3 linked regions of the Homo sapiens genome follow. The protein of the gene in region 2 purifies or fractionates together with the protein of the main gene of each other region. This does not show direct contact. Each region holds a gene or a part of one and is shown on either strand. Other genes may lie near its edges.

Region 1 (4,133 bases), on a different chromosome or scaffold from region 2:
AAAAAATCTGATTTTAAAATGGGTAAATAAGGTGAATAGACATCCCTCAAAAGGAGACATACAAATGGCCAAGTATATGAAAAAATGCTCAACATCACTAATCAGGGAAATGCAAATCAAAACCACAATGAGATATAATTTCACCTCAGTTAGGATGGCTATTACCAAAGATAAAAAATAAAAAATGCTGCTGAGAACATGGAAAAGGGGGAACTCTTATATATGGCTGGTAGGAATGCTAATTAGTATAGCCATATGGAAAACAGTATGAATGTTCCTCAAAAATCTAAAACTATAGCCAGGCACGGTGGTGTGTGCCTGTAGTCCCAGCTACTCAGGAGGCTGAGGTGCAGGACTGCTTGAGCCCAGGAGTCTGAGACCAGCCTGAATAACACAGCAAGACCCCATTTTAAAAAATGAAAAATAAACAAAAGTTAAAAATACAACTACCATATGATCCACTGGTAATGATCTATACCACTACTGGGCATATATGCAAAAACAAATATATCTATACGTCAAAGAGAGATCTACACTCCTATGTTTATTGAAGCACTATTCATAATAGCTAAGAAATCAGTCTAAGTGTCCATTATCAGATGAATGAAGAAAGAAAACATGGCATATATACACAATGGAATACTACTCAGCCATGAAAAATAAACCTGTCATTCACAGCAACATGAATGAGCTTGAAAGACATTAAGTGAAATAAGCTAGACACAGAAAGAGAAATACTCCATGTTTCTACTCATATGCAAGCATAAAAGGTTGAGAATGGTGGTAACCAGAGGCTGGGAAGGACAGCAGAGAGGCAGATAGAGATTGGTTAACAAATACAAAATTACAGCAAGTAAGATTCCATTTGAATAAGTTGTAGTGTTCTGTGGCACTGCAGAATGAGTACAATTGGCAATAATACATTTTATATTTTCAAATAGCTAGAAAAGCAGACTGTGAATGTTTCTAAACACAAAGAAATGATAAATGATTGAGATGGATATGCTAATTACCCTGATTTGATCATTACTCTTAGCACACATGTATTGAAATATCACACCAAACCCCATAAACATTGTCAATTAAAAACAATAAAAGAAACAAAAAGAATACCAAAAGAGAAATTCCAAAATATTCTGATTAAACATATTAATTACTACGACTGGACTCAATCCATGGTGACAACTACCTGCATATACATATGCAGGTTCACCTGTTAAAATTCCAGTCACTTTATGTATAGTCAGCCTTCACACAATCTTCTGTAAGACTGAAAAATGAGATTCCTTCTCTGTGTTTATTTTCTGAGTTTATCATAATCTTTTAACTTACTTTAGCTACATGTCTTATTTCATTTTTGGTTCCAAATTGACCTCTAGAAAATTGTTGAGGTGAATTTTGAACTATTTACTCTCTCTAAAGAGCAGTAAAAAAGCTGAGAAACCACAATCAGAGGGAAGAATTAGGACTCCCTGGATTACATTATGTACAAACAGCTACAATATCATCTCCATCCTACAGAAAAATAAAGAAGAAATTGACAAGTAGATCCAGATCAAGAAAAAAGTATGGTACTGGGTGGTTAAAGACACACGGAGAAACAATTTTTTTAAAAAAGTCAAAGCGTCTGAAGTGTGCAGTAAAATGTGCCCATTCATATGTACATCCTTTATCTCCTTAAATGTAAAAGTATTTCATAACTCAAGCCTCCATCTTTCTCATAAAGATATATGCTTCTGCTCCTCAAGAGTGGAGACAATGCTGTGGAACAAAGCAGGCTTTCACAAAATGTTTTCAAACAAACCGTTTGTCTACAGCACTGGACAGCAGTGAATGTATACACAGGGAAAATAAAGGGGATGAGGCCCTTTTGTTTCTGAAACATTTCCCTCTCCCAAATAAAATAAGGAGGGGATGACAAATTGCCATGGGCTTGTCAGGGAAGTCTGAAAGAAGCTGTGCTTCCATTTCTTTCTCTTCCCTATGACTCCTCCTCCTTTGTTTGAATGTCCCTGAGATAACATTTCACTGTAAACTAATAAGAAAGATGTGGCTGAAGGTTTTCCTAAGTGCACAGTAACCACTGGGTCTCTTTCATGGGTGAATTATCAGATGTAGAATAAGACTCTTGGCTGTGTCAATTTCTAACATAATTGTTTAGATGACAAATGATGATCTAAAACAGGTTTTCCCACAGAGATGATACTTATGGAGTTTCTCTTCAGTATGAATGACCAGATGGTAAGATGTTTCCTCTCACCACAGATTTTCTTCAGTGGTTATATTAAAAAACTATTTCGCTAATAGGAATTCTTGGATGTTGACTGAAGTGTACGTAAAAAGTCTTTCCACATCTGTTACAATGGTAGGGTTTCTTCCACTATGAATCCGTTGATGTCGAGTGAGGAGGAATGAGCGGCAATTGAAGGCGTTTCCATATTCACTGCACTCACTGGGCTACTCTCAGTGTGGATGATGGAGTGTTGAATGAGATCTGTGCTCTCACAAGAAACGTTCCCACTCTGGATGGGTTCGTGGGACTTCTCTGCAGTGTGAATCCGCTGGTGCCTTGTGAGGGGTGACCTGCGGTTGAAGGCCTTCCCGCACTCCACGCATTCATAGGGCTTCTCTCCAGTGTGGATGCTAAAGTGTCGAATCAGGTTTGTGGTCCGACAAAAGGCTTTCCCACATTGGATGCATACATACGGCTTCTCTCCAGTATGAATCCACTGGTGCCTTGTGAGCCCTGACATGCGGGTAAAAGCCTTTCCACACTGTAAACACTCATAGGGCTTCTCTCCAGTGTGGATGTTGAAGTGTCGAATGAGGTCTTTTCGAATGCTAAAGGCTTTCCCACATTCTTTGCACTCAAAAGGCTTTTCTCCAGTGTGGGCTCTTTCATGCAGGACATAGGTGGAATAGTGAGTGAAGGCCTTTCCACATTGACTGCACACAAAGGGCTTCTCACCAGTGTGAATCCGCTCATGCTGCTTGAGGTGTGACCTGCAGTTGAAGGCCTTCCCACACTCAAGGCACTTAAAGGGCCTCTCCCCAGTATGGATAATGAAGTGTTGAATGAGGGCTGTACTCTCATAAAAGCCTTTTCCACATTCGCTGCATGCGAAGGGTTTCTTCTCATTGTGGCTCTTGTTATGCAAGACAAAATTGGAGCGGTAGGTAAAGGCCTTTCCACATTCATTGCACACAAAAGGCTTCTCTCCACTGTGAACCCGCTGGTGCCGTGTAAGGTGCGACCCGCGATTGAAGGTCCTTCCACATTCACTGCACACAAAGGGCTTATCTCCATTGTGAGTCCGCTGGTGCCGTGTGAGGTGTGACCTGCGGTTGAAGTCTTTCCCACACTCCAGGCATTTATAGGGCTTCTCCCCAGTATGGATGATGTGATGCTGAAGGAGGTGTTTGCTCTTGCCGAAGGCTTTCCCACATTCTGGGCAATCATAGGGCTTCACACGAGGGAGAATCTGCTCATGCTGAACAAGGAAGCAATTCTCATTAAACATTTCCTCGAATTTATAGGAATTTTCCCCTTCATGAATCAAGGAATCTGTAACTGGTCCATATGAGTCAAATCCATAGAGAGCATCTTCTGGTGAGACTTGGTTCTGTATCATCATTGAACAAATACCATCAGCTGTCGCCAAACCTTCGTGTTCAAGGCTCATTTTCCCATGGAGTTTCTCACTCTGTGGGTCTGTCCCTGGTCTCAAAAAGTATTCCTGCATTTCAGATGGCCCATCTTGATCCATGGCCTGCCCCAAATAGGAGTATCTTGGGACTCCCTGTGCCAGCTGTTCCTGGAGTGAGACTTCCTCAGGCAAGGCCAGATGAGAAGGGATAGGCTCTACGGTCTCAGGTTTTGTGCTGTCACCTGAAGGGAACACAATACACAAAAGAACTTATTAAGATAGTACAGAAGAAATGAAACCACCTTTTTGGTGAGAACAATAAGATGAAAATAGTGATGATTTGAAAATAGCTATGATTTGATGGGCTGGGTACAGTGGCTCATCCCTGTAATCCCAGCACTTTGGGAGGCCAAGGCAGGCGGATCACTTGAGGTCAGGAGTTTGAGACCAGCCTGGCCAACATGGTGAAACCCCATATCTACTAAA
Region 2 (7,349 bases):
CCCTAGGGTTTCTTTCTGGGCTCTCTATTCTGTTTTATCAGTCTATGTGTCTATTTCAAAGGAGAGCTGACATTGTGAGAATCTAATTGACACTATGAATCCCTGTAATAACATTTCAACATACTTCCTGGGTCAGTAAATCCTGAGAAACAAACCTTGTTAGTCATTAAGATAACTTAAATAATACAATAAACAAAAAAAAGAACTCTCAGAACTTCTTAGGATAAGTGGTTTAAATGCCAACAATAGCTCTTGGGTACTACTGAAGCATCCACAGATGAGAGGTTAGTTCTATAATAGTTCTGTTATTCCCACCAGTAGAGTGTAGGGCATAATTCAAGTCAGGAAGCTTTAATTTACTTTATGTTTGTCAAAGGCCTATACAACATTGTAAATAAAAAATGTGCCAACAACCAAATTGGTTATTCCTTATTCTGATGCAATGGATTCATATTTTGTGCCTTCGGAATGGGTTTCTGTGATGTAAAAAGCTTAAGTCATACTGTAAAATAATAGGTCAAATTTTCTGAAGAGAATCTTGATTTGGATCACTGAACTCACCTGGTGCCTAAGAGTTGTATTCCAGCGTGCCCCAAATGTCAGAATCAAAACAAATAGGCAAAAATTGTATTAAGTATTAAAAGTAAGTGCTTTATTTTAAAATAACATATACTCTATTGGAAGTGGGCCTGGAAAATAATGGGCAATGAAAGAATTGGTGAGAGAAAGTGAACGGCTGAAATGAACCTCGTAAAGCACTCTACAGTGACCTCTATTCTTGTGTTTCATCTTCTTCTAAAATTGTACACTACTTAATGGCAAACATGATGCCTTTTTCTTCCACACTAGTTAGAACAGTCTCTGACACCAATAAATGGTAAAAATAGCTAGCTAGCATTTATTGAGTGTGTCTGGTTCTTTAATATACATCTTTACTCCTCTCTATACATCCTATGTGGCAGTATAATTAGCCCCAGTTTACAGACAAATTGAGACCCACAGACATTTTATGATTTAACTGAGATTTTATAGCATCTAAGTGATTGAGCCAAGATCTGAACACAACCCACCCTATTCATTTACAGAGTAGCATTTAATACATATTTGTTGAATTAATCAATGTTTTTGTGACTTAAGAATAAGGACTTATTCTGATTATAGAAATCCTTTCATTCAACTCATACAATTGTTATTATAAATACGGCATGAAGAAAAAAAAAGGAAGTCTAAGTTAAGGAGTTAATGATCTCATTTGTATGGTGCTTCTAAATAAATTTAACACTGTTATCTAAATCTATTTCAAAACTATTTTGTATTCTTATGAGAAAAGGAAATATTATATGTAGGGAGATAAAACGTTACAGTTAGAAGAGACTTTCAAAATATTTTCTCAGTCTGTATTTCCAGGATGGAGATTTACTTATTCCCCTTCTTCTTCTTCTCCCCCTCCTCTTGTTCTTTTATTTATTTATTTATTTATTTATTTATTTATTTATTTATTTTTAAGACAGGGTCCTTCTGTCACCCAGGCTGGAGTGCAGTGATGCAATCACAGCTCACTGCAACCTTGAATTCCTGGGCTTAAGCTATTCTCCCACCTTGGCCTATCAAAGTGTTGGGATTACAGGCATGAGCCACAGCCCCAGGACTACTCTTCCTTTTTGACTTGATTACCCCCCTTTAAATAAACTATATATGAAATTTTATGGTTTTGGGGTTTTTTTTGTTTTGTTTTGTTTTTTGAGATGGAGTCTCACTCTGTCACCCAGGCTGGAGTACAATGGCACCATCTCAGCTCACTGCAACCTCCGCCTCCCAGGTTCAAGCAATTCTCCTGTCTCAGCCTCCTGAGTAGTTGGGATTACAGGCAACTGTCACCACATCCAGCGAATTTTTCTATTTTTAGTAGAGATGGGGTTTCACCATGTTGGCCAGGCTGGTCTCGAACTCCTGACCTCAAGTGATCCACCCACCTCAGCCTCCCAAAGTGCTGGGATTACAGGCATGAGCCACCATGTCCAGATAAATTTTATGATTTACTGCAGCCAAATCTATATGTCAGTGATTTTAAAACTCAATGCTATTTTTTTCCTTTTTTTGTATTATATAACTTAAATCCAATTTTGGATCTAAACATAATGATTTTAAGTTTTTTAACAACAATTTTCAATTTGTGATCTAATAGCAGGTTTGGATGGAGCTTGTGTTCTGGAAGACACAGTTTTGATGCTTTTAATATCCTGCTGTTGTTAAATAGAATTTGAATGGGTGAAAAATGAAATGTGGACAAAAACATATTGGATTCTCAAAACACGAAATATAGATATTGGTACATAAAATTTGAAATTAAGGCAGATTCTGGAAAACTGACTCCTAACAGTAAATCAAAAGGGATTTCTTGTTGCTATTTGGAAAGCATTTTCATAAAATTAGAATGAAGAATACAGCAAATTTAACCACTAGGAAAACACTTTCTTCACTTGCCTTCCATGACATTCTACTCTCTTGATTTTCTCTTCTCCTTCTCCTTTGCTGGGTCCTCCTTTTCTTTCCATCTCTTCATGCAGGACTCCTCCAGGGTTCAGTCCTTGATCTTCTTTTTTCAGTTTTCTATCTACACTCATTCTAATGGTTTGAAATACTACCTATGTGCCAATTACTTCCAAAGTTTGATCTTTAGCCCACACCTCTCTGTCCTGCTGCAGAATCATACATCCCAACTGACTAGTTGACACCACCAATCAGATCACTAAAAAGTATCTCAAACTTAACATTTCCAAAACTGAAATCTTGATCTTACCTCTCAGATTTGTTCCATCTGAACTTTCCCGCATTTCACCTGATGGTAACTCCATCCTTTGAATCACTCAGGTCGAAAGTCTTGGAGTCATCCTTGACTCTTTCATGTCCTCCCTTCAGTTCCATCAGTAACTTTACCTTCCAGAGGAATCACTTCTCAACCACCTACACAAGACTTACCCTGGTTCAGGCCACTATCATTTCTTCCCTTCTTCCACACACCCTGCCCCTGCATAGGCTCTTCTCAAAAGAAGATTCTGAATGACGCTTTTACTTTATTTTTATTTATTTTTTTGAGAGGGTCTCACCCTCTCACCCAGGCTGGAATGCAGTGGCACCAACATGGCTCATTGCAACCTAGCCTTCCAGGCTCAATGGATCCTACTGCCTCAGCCTCCTGAGTAGCTGGGACCACAGATGTACACCATGCCCAAACAGATATATATATTTTTTTACTTTTTGTAGACATGGGGTCTCACAGTGTTGCCAAAGCTGGTCTTGAACTCCCAGGCTCAAGCAATCCTCCTGCCTTGGCCTCCCAAAGTGCTAAAATTACAGGCATGGGCCACTGCACCAGCCTGATACTTTTAAGATGTTAAGATCATACCATTCTTTTCCTCAAAATTCTATAAGAGATCTTCATCTCACATAAAATAAAAGCCAAAGTCCTTACAAAACTCTACACCACCTGTCCAATCTCAACACTTCTTGCCTTTCCTGGCTTGCTACTGACTAGGAGCATTGGAGCTGGCTGTTTGCTTTGCCAGGACAGCTTTTCTCCTTGATAACCAGCTTTTCTCAGATTAACAGCTCTTCCCTCAGATAACTAGTTTAGCCCATTACCTCCTTCAAACCTTGGCTCAATGTAACGTTTTCAATGAAGCCTACTCTGAGAATCCTATTTAAAATTGCAACGTACTTTGGGAGTCCAGGGCGGACAGATCACCTGAAATCAAGAGTACAAGACCAGCCTGGCCAACATGGTGAAACTCCATCTCTGCAAAAATACAAAAATTAGCCGGGCATGGTGGCACGTGTTTGTAGTCCCAGCTACTCAGGAGGAGGAGTTTGCAGTGATCGGAGATCGTGCCACTGCACTCCAGCCTGGGCATTAAAGCAAGGCTCCGTCTCAAAAAGATGAATGTCTCTTCATCTTCTTTTATCCTGTTCTATTTTTTTTCCATACCATGTCTTACTCTGTAGCTCACCATAATTTATTTGTATGCTCATTTTAGGTTTCCCTCAAGTAAAACGTAAACTAATCCAGGCACGGTTTTTGTTGTTGTTCCATTATTTTGAGGGCTGGGCACATAGATGCGCAAGGAGTGCCCAAACTCATCATCTCACTCTTTATACAGCTGGGCAAACTGCCTAAAGTTTCCTCAAGCCTCAGCTTTACTATTTTCTTGAATGGCTAAAACTCACAAAACACATCTAGCGTCAAAAACTTTGCGACCCCGGAAGTAAAAGGTTAAGGAAGGGGGTCACAGGAGAAGGCTATTTCCGTTTCCGTACGGAAGCAAAGGAGCCAAGACCATGGCGAAAGCCGGGGATAAGAGCAGCAGCAGCGGGAAGAAAAGTCTAAAACGGAAAGCCGCTGCCGAAGAACTTCAGGAGGCTGCAGGCGCTGGGGATGGGGCGACGGAAAACGGGGTCCAACCCCCGAAAGCGGCTGCCTTTCCGCCAGGCTTTAGCATTTCGGAGATTAAAAACAAACAGCGGCGACACTTAATGTTCACGCGGTGGAAACAGCAGCAGCGGAAGGTACGCGAGAGGCGGGGGCTGCCGGGCGCTTGCGCGTTGTTCCTGACGCTTAGGGCGGTCGCGGGGCGCACATCTGTGGTTGTCTGCTGGTCTCAAAAGTGTTCTCTGTGGCTCCGTGGGAAGGGTGGCGTCGCGGCCCACGTGTTCTGGTCCCCTCGCCCTAGTTTGGAGACTCTAGGTTCAGCCTTTTGCCTGAGCGTCAAGGTGGAAGATTATCTTGATAGGCTCTTTCCTGGGACGCTAGATTCACAAGGAAAGCTGTAAGGCCAGTTGGCTTAGTAGTGAAAACTACGCCCTCCTGGCCCAGAAGGCAAAAGTCTCAGCCCTTTGGTCCGTCTAGGTAGCGTTGGTTAATTTGCAGAATCTGAAATGGAGGCAATACGTAATAAATCCAAAATACTGCTTCTCTGATTCCTGCAGGAGCTCCTTACCGAAATTAGTACTGTAAAGTTTCTGGTAATTGTATTTGTTCTTTTCAGCTTTATCCTTATACGTTTCTGGTAGGTAAACAAACTGAAACGTAAAGAGGTTTAAACGACTTGTCAAGGTCGCAGTGCTCATTTCTGGTTAAATTGCAATTGGAAGAAAACGTTTGCTTATTCTTGCACATCGTAGAAGTTCACACAATATTATTATTATGTGTCTGCCTCCTCTTACTGGCCCTTCTGAGGCCCGGGACTGGTTCTTACTCATGTTCAGTGTCAAGGTGCTGTTTCAATACATACAAGGGGCGTTTAACTCATTCTGGTATGCACGTATTGGGGAGGGATGTCCTGGAAGACTTATTGGAGCTATGATTTCTAATCTGAAACCTGGTGGATTGAGGATCAGTAGGTGCTGGGGAAAAAAGAATATTTTTTATTTTGTCAAGCATTCTATCTAGAAATCTCCAGAAGAATATATAGATTGACAATACAAATACAGATAATCTTAAGCCACCTTGCAAGCTCTTACTAAATTTTAGAAGTATATTTTGATTATAAAATATGTGAATAACTGGTGATGGTTTTATGGAAAACAACCTGAAAACTCAGCTCCCATTCCTATTTTTAGTGCTTTTCAAGAGAAGCAAGCAGCATAACCATGGTCGTCTTTAGGATGCCACCAGTTAGGCAAAACAAAACACAGTGGAAACCATCACATACTTTAATTAATTTGAGGCTTTATGGAAAAAGGTTAAGCTACTCAAATTTTAAATGTTCAAACTTGCCAGTTTAGATTTTTTTAAAGGAGCAGGTCTTTGTTAAAGAAATCTTATTGATTGGCCAGCTCATTTGGCTTACAGTAATTTAGGTAGAAAACTCCACGTCCAGATGCTTATTTCAATAGATTACAAAGACCGCCCAGTTCGAGTATTCATAGCATTAGTAATTTGTAGTTTCAGTATGTGTTTGTGATATAACTGGTTGTTTCTCAGTATTGTTCTCTTTTTTTTTAACCCTTTAGGAAAAGTTGGCAGCTAAGAAAAAACTTAAAAAAGAAAGAGAGGCTCTTGGCGATAAGGTAAATAAAATTTTTAGCTGTTTGCTTTCTATCTTATATTAGGGAATCCCTCCTGATATTTAAGTTGAATTACTTTCTTTTAAAATTTATTATTACGTATTTCAGATGTATGAAGAAATACAAAAGTAATATAATAAACCTCTTTGTATCATTTACCCAGCTTAAGAAATAATGCATTAGCAAAGAATGTTGGAAGCCCCTCGTCTGCTTCATAATTGCTTTTCCCTCCGAAGATAACCACTCGTGAAATTTTTGATTATTTTTTCCATGCACTTCTTTTACCTTTACTGTGTATGTTTGTGTACCTATACGGTAACACAGTGGTGGTATTTTGCATATAACTTTGTGTTTCAGAGGTCAACACCTCTCCCTGACTTTGGGAATGGGGAAGCTCCCCCAGGTTAGGCCTGGAGCTTGGCTCTTGTCATGTGAAGCAAAGATTTTTGGTCAGGCAAGGCTGGGGAAAGGCAGGACAGATCCTCTTCTGGAGTAGGGTGATAAGGGTGTGTTAAGCTTTAGAGCTGGTACAGAGGATATGAACCTGTGAAAAGTGAGAATGGGGAGTGGGAGGACGGTGAGGATTATGGCAGAGAAAAGAGCAGATAATGCATCAAGAAAGAATTTGGCTGTATTTGTGGTACTCATAAGAAGTGAAATCTTTATTGAAAAAATTTTTTAAACTACTAAATGCTCATACATTATTGCATAGCTAAGTTATTTTTATTTTCAGTGTATTTATAGTTACTCCTAGGTTGTGATTTATTTTTGCAAAATTTTGAAAACATTCATGTCTCCGCCTCCCATTCAAGTAAGTTACCAAATAAGGGTGTTTGAGGAAGGGAAAAAAATGTAAAGACAGTATACAAACTAAACACTCTACTATTTCATACATTCTTTGAATAGTATTAGGTTAAACCATAGAAAATTGTCAATAGTAGACTGTTTTGACCTGCAGTATCCTAGTATGTCAAGCATGTTAGTCTCTTTTTAATTCTTTTGTAATCAGTCTATTACAGCAAATTAATGTTATGATCACCATTTGAAAACACCACCATTCTTGTTTTTTGAGATGAAAGATAACTTCTTAAAATTGCCTCCTTTAAAAAATGCTTAAAATGTAATATTTGTTTCATAGAGTAATAAATGCTAGTTTCAGTTTGTATTTTCTTCATAGCTCTGCTAGTGTACATATATTTTGAATTAGTTTTAATGTACTCTTACAATTCTGTGTTCTACTTCTTAGCAATTCATTTACACCATTTCTTGGTCTAAGCTGAGTATGC
Region 3 (7,048 bases), on a different chromosome or scaffold from region 2:
TCCTCTCTTCACTCCCTCATGTCTCCCCTCCCCTTCCTGGCTGAATAGTTTCGTTAAGATGTGTCTTGGTTGGGTACCGTGGCTCATGCCTGTAATCCCAGCAGTTTGGGAGGCTGAGGTAGGAAGATTGCTTGAGCCCAGGAGTTTGATACCAGCCTGGACAACAAAGTGAGACCCTGTCTCTACACACACACACACACACACACACACACACACACACACACACACACACACAAAAGAATGAGCTGGGTACCGTGGCACACACTTGTGGTCTCAGCTACTCAGGAGGCTGAGGTGGGAGGATTGTTTAAGCCTGGGAGGTGGAGGCTGTGCTTGAGCCACTACACTCCAGCCTGAGTGACAGAGTGAGACCTTGTCTCAAAAAAAAAAAAAAAAAAAGTGCTTTGGACCAGCCTGGGCAACATAGCAAGACCCTGTCTCTATGAAAAAACACAAAAATTTAGTGGGTATGATGGTGTGCACCTGTGGTTCCAGCTACTCGGGTATGGTGAGGTGAGAGGATCACTTGAGCCAGAGAGGTCCAAGCTGCAGTGAGCCATGTGCCACTGCACTCTGGCCTGGAGAACAGAACAAGACTGTGTTTCAAAACAAAACAAAAAGATGTATCTTGGTATGTTTTTCTTTGAGTTATCCTATTTGGTGTTTGTTGAGCTCCTTGAATCTGTAAATTTATATCTGACCAAACGTGGGGGATTTTCCACCTTTTTTTTTTCAAATGTATTTTTCTGCCTTAGTATCTTTCTTTCTTTCTTTTTTTTTTTTTCCATTTAACCCTGAGTTGACACAGCACATGTTTCAGAGAGCACAGGGTTGGGGGTAAGGTTATAGATCAACAGCATCCCAAGGCAGAAGAATTTTTCTTAGTACAGAACAAAATGGAGTCTCCTATGTCTACTTCTTTCTACACAGACACAGTAACAATCTGATCTCTCTTTCTTTTCTCCACATTTCCCCCTTTTCTTTTCGACAAAACCGCCATCATCATCATGGCCCATTCTCAATGGTCACTGTCTCTTCGGAGCTGTTGGGTACACCTGCAGAAAGGCTGTCACTTCACACTTGGAAGATTGCACAGCGGCCAGTCAGAGGTGCTCCTCACTTCCCAGACAGGGTGGCGGCCGGGCAGAGGCGCTCCTCACATCCCAGATGGGGCGGCCAGGCAGAGGCACTCCTCACCTCCCGGACAGGGCGGCCGGGCAGAGGCGCTCCTCACATCCCAGACGGGGTGGTGGCCGGGCAGAGGCACTCCTCAGTTCGCAGACGGGGTGGCAGCCGGGCAGAGGCGCTCCTCACCTCCTAAACGGGGTGGCGGCCGGGCGGAGGCGCTCCTCACCTCCCAGAAGGGGTGGCGGCCGGGCAGAGACGCTCCTCACCTCCCAGACGGGGTGGCGGCTGGGCAGAGACGCTCCTCACCTCCCAGACGGGGTGGCGGCCGGGCAGAGGTGCTCCTCACCTCCCAGACAGGGCGGCCGGGCAGAGGCGCTCCTCACTTCCCAGACAGGGCGGCCGGGCAGAGGCGCTGGTCACATCCCAGATGATGGGCGGCCAGGCAGAGACGCTCCTCACTTCCTAGACGGGGTGGCGGCCGGGCAGAGGCGCTCCTCACTTCCCAGACGGGGCGGCCGGGCAGAGGGTCTCCTCCCATCCCAGATGATGGGCAGCCAGGCAGAGACGCTCCTCACTTCCTAGATGGGGTGGCGGCCGGGCAGAGGCTGTAGTCTTAGCACTTTGGGAGGCCAAGGCAGGCGGCTGGGAGGTGGAGGTTGTAGCGAGCCGAGATCACGCCACTGCACTCCAGCCTGGGCAACATTGAGCATTGAGTGAGCAAGACTCCGTCTGCAATCCCAGCACCTCGGGAGGCGGAGGCGAGCAGATCACTCGAGGTCAGGAGCTGGAGACCAGCCTGGTCAACACGGCGAAACCCCGTCTCCACCAAAAATACAAAAACCAGTCAGGCGTGGCGGCGCGTGCCTGCAATCCCAGGCATTGGGCAGGCCCAGGCAGGAGAATCAGGGGAGCCCGAGGTAGGGAGGTTGTAGCTAGGTGAGATCACGGCAGTATGGTCCAGCCTTGGCAACAGAGGGAGACCGAAGAAGGGAGAGGGAGGAGAGCGGGGAGAGGGAGAGCGAGAGCTGCATTAGTATCTTTCGCCTCTCCCTCTGGGATTACAACTACACTTAAGTTAAAACGTTTGGTATTAGGGTTTTGTTGAATGTTTTTCAATCTTTTTTTCTCTTTGTTCTTCAGACTGGTTTTTTTTCTTTTCTTTTCTTTTTTTTTTTTTTTGAGATGGAGTCTCGCACTGTCGCCCAGGCTGGAGTGCAGTGGTGCGATCTCTGCTCACTGCAGCGGCGCGATCTCTGCTCATTGCAGCCTCCGCCTCCCAGGTTCAAGCGATTCTCCTGCCTCAGCCTGCCGAGTAGCTGAGATTACAGGCACCCACCACCAGGCCTGGCTAATTCTTTTGTATTTTTAGTAGAGACGGGGTTTCACTATGCTGATCAGGCTGGTCTCGAACTCCTGACCTTGTGATCCGCCTGCCTCGGCCTCCCAAAGTGCTGGATTACAGGCGTGAGCCACTGTGCCCGGTGGAGACTGGGTCATTTCTATTGAACGGTCTTCAAGTTCACAGACTCTTTCCTCTGTCATCTCCATTCTATTACTGAACCTATCTGATGAGTTTTTATTTCAGATGTTGTATTTTTCAGTTCTAAGATTTCATTTGGTTCTTTTTTATGGTTTCTTTTTCTGCTGATGATTCCCACCTTTTCCTTCATTTCTTGTGTGTTTTCTTTATAAGAAAGTATTTCTTTTTTGTTGACAGTATTTGATAGTCCCAAAATCTGGATCACCTTGTGGCTGGCATGTTTTGGTCATTTGTTCCTTTGAAAATTGCTCACATTTTCCTGGTTCTTTATGTGTTGCATAATTTTGGAATTTATCCTCATCATTGTGAATACTTTTTGTGTAGATTTTGGGTCCTATTATAATTCTTCTGGGGAATGTTGCCGTTTCTGTTTTAGCAGGCCACCCTGCTTCAGGTTCAGGCCAAAACTTCTGTCTTGCTTTTGGAGGCATTTGTTAAAATCTCGGTTCTGTTCTTTATGTCTTTGCTATGTTGATTTGAGCTGTCCCAAACATGAATAGCTTAGGGGCTGGTCTGAGACTTCTGCAGGTGTTTCCAATCTTATTTCAGTTCTCCAAGCTTTTGCTGCTTTGGTTTGGGTCACATTAGAGTTCAAATCTCATTTTGGTTTTCAAAGTCTTTGCTAGGCTGGTACGTATGGGTATATGCCACACATTCATGGCTAAGGTTAAGTTGTGACTTATTTGGATTCATACATTGAATTAAGAGATTCTTTTTTTTGCCTGTTTTCTCTCTAGCATTCCTCCCACCCCCAGTCCCCCAACTCTGGTCCACAGGGACCTTTTTTCCTGATTTACCTGGTAAGAAAGAAGGGAGTTTCTAGAATTAAAGCTGCCTATGCTGCTCTGCAAGTGGGGTTCATCCTCATTGCAAATTCTTACTTGAGGGAAAAAGACAGAATTGGAAAACTCACCCCATTTGGGGCACTTCTCCCAACTTTGACTCCCCTGCATAATTTACTTGTTTTTGTTTGTTTTACAGAGTCCAGTGAGCAGGAGGGGTGGGCCTTAGTGGGCTTAGCTGCCCCTCCAGAGCCAGGACTTCTGTGTATTAAATTTGTGTTATTGGACCTCATGTGTGGAGAGCCGAAACTCATTCTTCCCTATTTGTAACATACTGACATAACCAGTCTCTGTTATGTTTACTCATCCCCATTTCCATCCCCTCCCTCCTAGAGGAAACTGTATAAACAAGTGTGATGTTTGCACTTAAATATTTATGACTCCTTTAAAAAATAAGCTTTAAAATAAGCTGCTTTATGTGTGGATTTGTTTTTAGCTTGCTGAACTGACATTGTGCTAGAGATACTGTTTTGTTTCTTTTTTCATTCAACAATATACTTTTTAGTTATGGTCGTGTCTCTATGTGTAGAATTAGTTTATTGCTTCTAACAGCAGCACAGTATTCCATAGTAGGCATCTATCACATTTTGCAAGGATGGTCACTGTGTTACTTCCAACTCCCTGATGTCATAAGCAAACCTCTCTATGTGTAATTCTTATTAGCTCTACATCTAAAGTGTTACCTTGAATCTGCCAATTCAAGTTAACTTTTTTCCTTTTGTTTACTCTTTCTCCCATGGGCTGTCTCCATAGAGCAGCCAGAAGGATCTTTCTGAACCATAAATCTAAAGTAGGCCTCACAGGTATTTAGCTGGAAAAGGGAGGTTCTAGGAGTCCATTGACCACTCTTGGAGAACTGCTGCTCTGCTGCATCTTGAGCCACCTAGAAGAATGTCTGATGCTTTGTAGTTACAGAGTAATGTTTTTTAGCTGTCATACTGACTGGTCTTAGATTTTGGAATCTGGATTCAGCTGTATACCAGAAATCTCTGGCCAGGTTAATTCATGCAAGATAGCATCCATCCTTTAGCTGTGGAAGCTAAGTATCATGTTGCCTAAATAAGATAGGGCATCAGGTTTTAGGGAGAATGCTGAGGCAGAAGGAAGATGAGTCAGATTAGGGCCCACAGACTATTCCTTTCCCTTAGAGATACCCTTTAGTTGCCATCCCTCTGTCAGAGAAAGAGAGAGGCTGGGACATACCAGGTTACAAATCCAGGGAGTCTTCTGAAGGGTCATAGAACACCTTTATTGCTTCACCTACTTTCTTTTATTAGATGAATCTAGGAAGGAATGTCTACTTGGGCTGCAAAGTGATCATTTATGTGTACTGCTTACTCTTATTACAATGAAGTGTGATAATAATTGTACATGTTGTGTTAGATCAACTATTGTTATTGTTAGGTGATTACAACTTACATTCTGTTTTTATAGCAGGCTTCTTAGTTTTCTGCAGAGGTAACCAACTTGGTTATAATGTAAAAGAATGTATAGAAATTTTGCTCCAGACCTTCCTTTGTGGTATATATTTTTATGTTGTATTAGTAGCAGGACCCAGTGCTCCATAAAGGATAATAGTTTCCAGTACACTATCCCTCATGATGACTCCTTAAGTGGTTCATCGTCTGCATCTTCGTGTGAACCAGTGAGTGATTTTCCAGCATCTTTCCGAAAATCTACCTACTGGATGAAGATGAGAAGAATCAAGCCAGCTGCTACTTCTCATGTCGAAGGTATCAATATCAGTGTCTTATTCTGAAGACGGGCCACTTCCTAAAGTTATAGTTTGAGATTGTTATAAATACCTCTTAAAAGTATTAAATGGCGGCTGAGCGTGGTGGCTCACGCCTGTAATCCCAGCACTTTGGGAGGTCGAGGCGGGCGGATCACAAGGTCAGGAGATCGAGACCATCCTGGCTAACATGGTGAAACCCCGTCTCTACTAAAAATACAAAAAATTAGCGGGGCCTGGTGGTGGGCGCCTGTAGTCCCAGCTACTCAGGAGGCTGAGGCAGGAGAATGGCATGAACCTGGGAGGCAGAGGTTGCACTGAGCAGAGATCGCACCATTGCACTGTAGCCTGGGCGAAAGAGCGAGACTCCGTCTCAAAAAAAAAAAAAAAAGAGTATGAAATGCCACATATTTGTTTCTCATTAGTGATTTAAAAAAATTTAAGGTGTTAGGCAATTGCATCCTGTCCCATTAGCTTCATGAACTGCTATGTGATAGAGTGAAATTCTGCTAATCTTACTCCTCTAGATTATATTTAGCATTTGATTTTCCTCTTTGTAGTATTTGAATTCCCCTTTTCTTCTTCTTTTTTTTTTGAGACGGAGTTTCACTCTTCTTGCCCAGACTAGAGTGCAATGACTCGAGCTCAGGCTCACCGCACCCTCCTTCTCCTGGGTTCAAGCGATTCTCCTGCCTCAGCTTGTAATGCCAGCTGAGTAGCTGGGATTACAGGCATGTGCCACCACACCTGGCTAATTTTGTATTTTTAGCAGAGACGGGGTTTCTCCATGTTGGTCAGGCTGGTCTTGAACTCCTGACCTCAGGTAATCCGCCCACTTTGGCCAAAGTCTGTAATCTCAAAGTGCTGGGATTACAGATGTGAGTCACCATGGCTGGCCCCCCTTTTCTTCTAGTGTGATCCTCTGTTGATGATTTAGGGGCTGGTGTAAGGATTATTCAGGGGAGAATATTCTGGATCGTCACAATCTCAAGGGTCCTTGGTGGCTAGCCCTCTATCTTGAGCAATTCTTATCCTCTTGTTAGCCTCAAGTCAAGATTAAGCAAAACACATTGCTTGAATGCCCTTATTATTCATAAGGAACAATGGATGATTTGGAATAGATAACAATATAAAAAGAAAGGGAGAGTGGGTCAGTTAATGAGAAGTTACACCAACTTCTCTAAAAATGTCACAGACATTTCTCTGAGGCCTGTGTTCACTGATGATCTTTCCTTTTGATGGTCTTGTGAATGATGTTTTGAAGACAGGCCTAGATGTTCATTTACAAAGTGTGCTGAGTTTTTGTTTTGTTTTTGTATGGTACTTCAGGGTCAGGTGGAGTATCAGCCAAGGGGAAAAGGAAACCCAGGCAGGAAGAAGATGAAGACTATCGAGAATTTCCTCAGAAGAAGCATAAGCTTTATGGTAAGGCAGTAACTTTGCTACTTCTTTTTCCTTGGGTGACTGAGCTTTATTCTTTGAGGGTAAAGGAAAGAGAAGCCTTAGTTTGAGCCCTTCAGTGACCTCTGAGCCCTTTGAATTGTTTGGGAGGGAATGGCCTCCATCCTGCCTCATTATACCCTTTCATTCTGTCCTGACTTAGGCAGTCAGTCGGTTGAGGGACTGGGAAATAGGGTGTTGAAGAGGAGGAGAGGGAAGAGATTTTGGTATTAGCAAGGGTGACATGCTGGGCTTCAAGTTTCTGTCTTATGTCAGGGAGGAAGCAACGGCCTAAAACTCAGCCCAATCCCAAATCCCAGGCCCGTCGTATTCGGAAGGAACCACCAGTTTATGCAGCAGGTATGT

What was found.
Region 1: the proteins of RPF1 (region 2) and ZNF460 purify together in Homo sapiens (affinity purification with mass spectrometry; 2 studies listed by BioGRID and IntAct, with this or other methods). This does not show direct contact.
Region 3: the proteins of RPF1 (region 2) and ZNF512 purify together in Homo sapiens (affinity purification with mass spectrometry; 2 studies listed by BioGRID and IntAct, with this or other methods). This does not show direct contact.

Annotation. Positions count from the first base shown.
Region 1 is NC_000019.10:57,290,455-57,294,587, reverse strand, and holds the end of ZNF460 (zinc finger protein 460), read right to left. Parts: intron 3,890-4,133; coding exon 2,358-3,889; 3' UTR 519-2,357; downstream 1-518. UniProt on the Homo sapiens protein: May be involved in transcriptional regulation.
Region 2 is NC_000001.11:84,474,947-84,482,295, forward strand, and holds the start of RPF1 (ribosome production factor 1), read left to right. Parts: upstream 1-4,319; 5' UTR 4,320-4,335; coding exon 4,336-4,563; intron 4,564-6,009; coding exon 6,010-6,066; intron 6,067-7,349.
Region 3 is NC_000002.12:27,593,012-27,600,059, forward strand, and holds part of ZNF512 (zinc finger protein 512), read left to right. Parts: intron 1-5,055; coding exon 5,056-5,243; intron 5,244-6,571; coding exon 6,572-6,667; intron 6,668-6,958; coding exon 6,959-7,042; intron 7,043-7,048. UniProt on the Homo sapiens protein: May be involved in transcriptional regulation.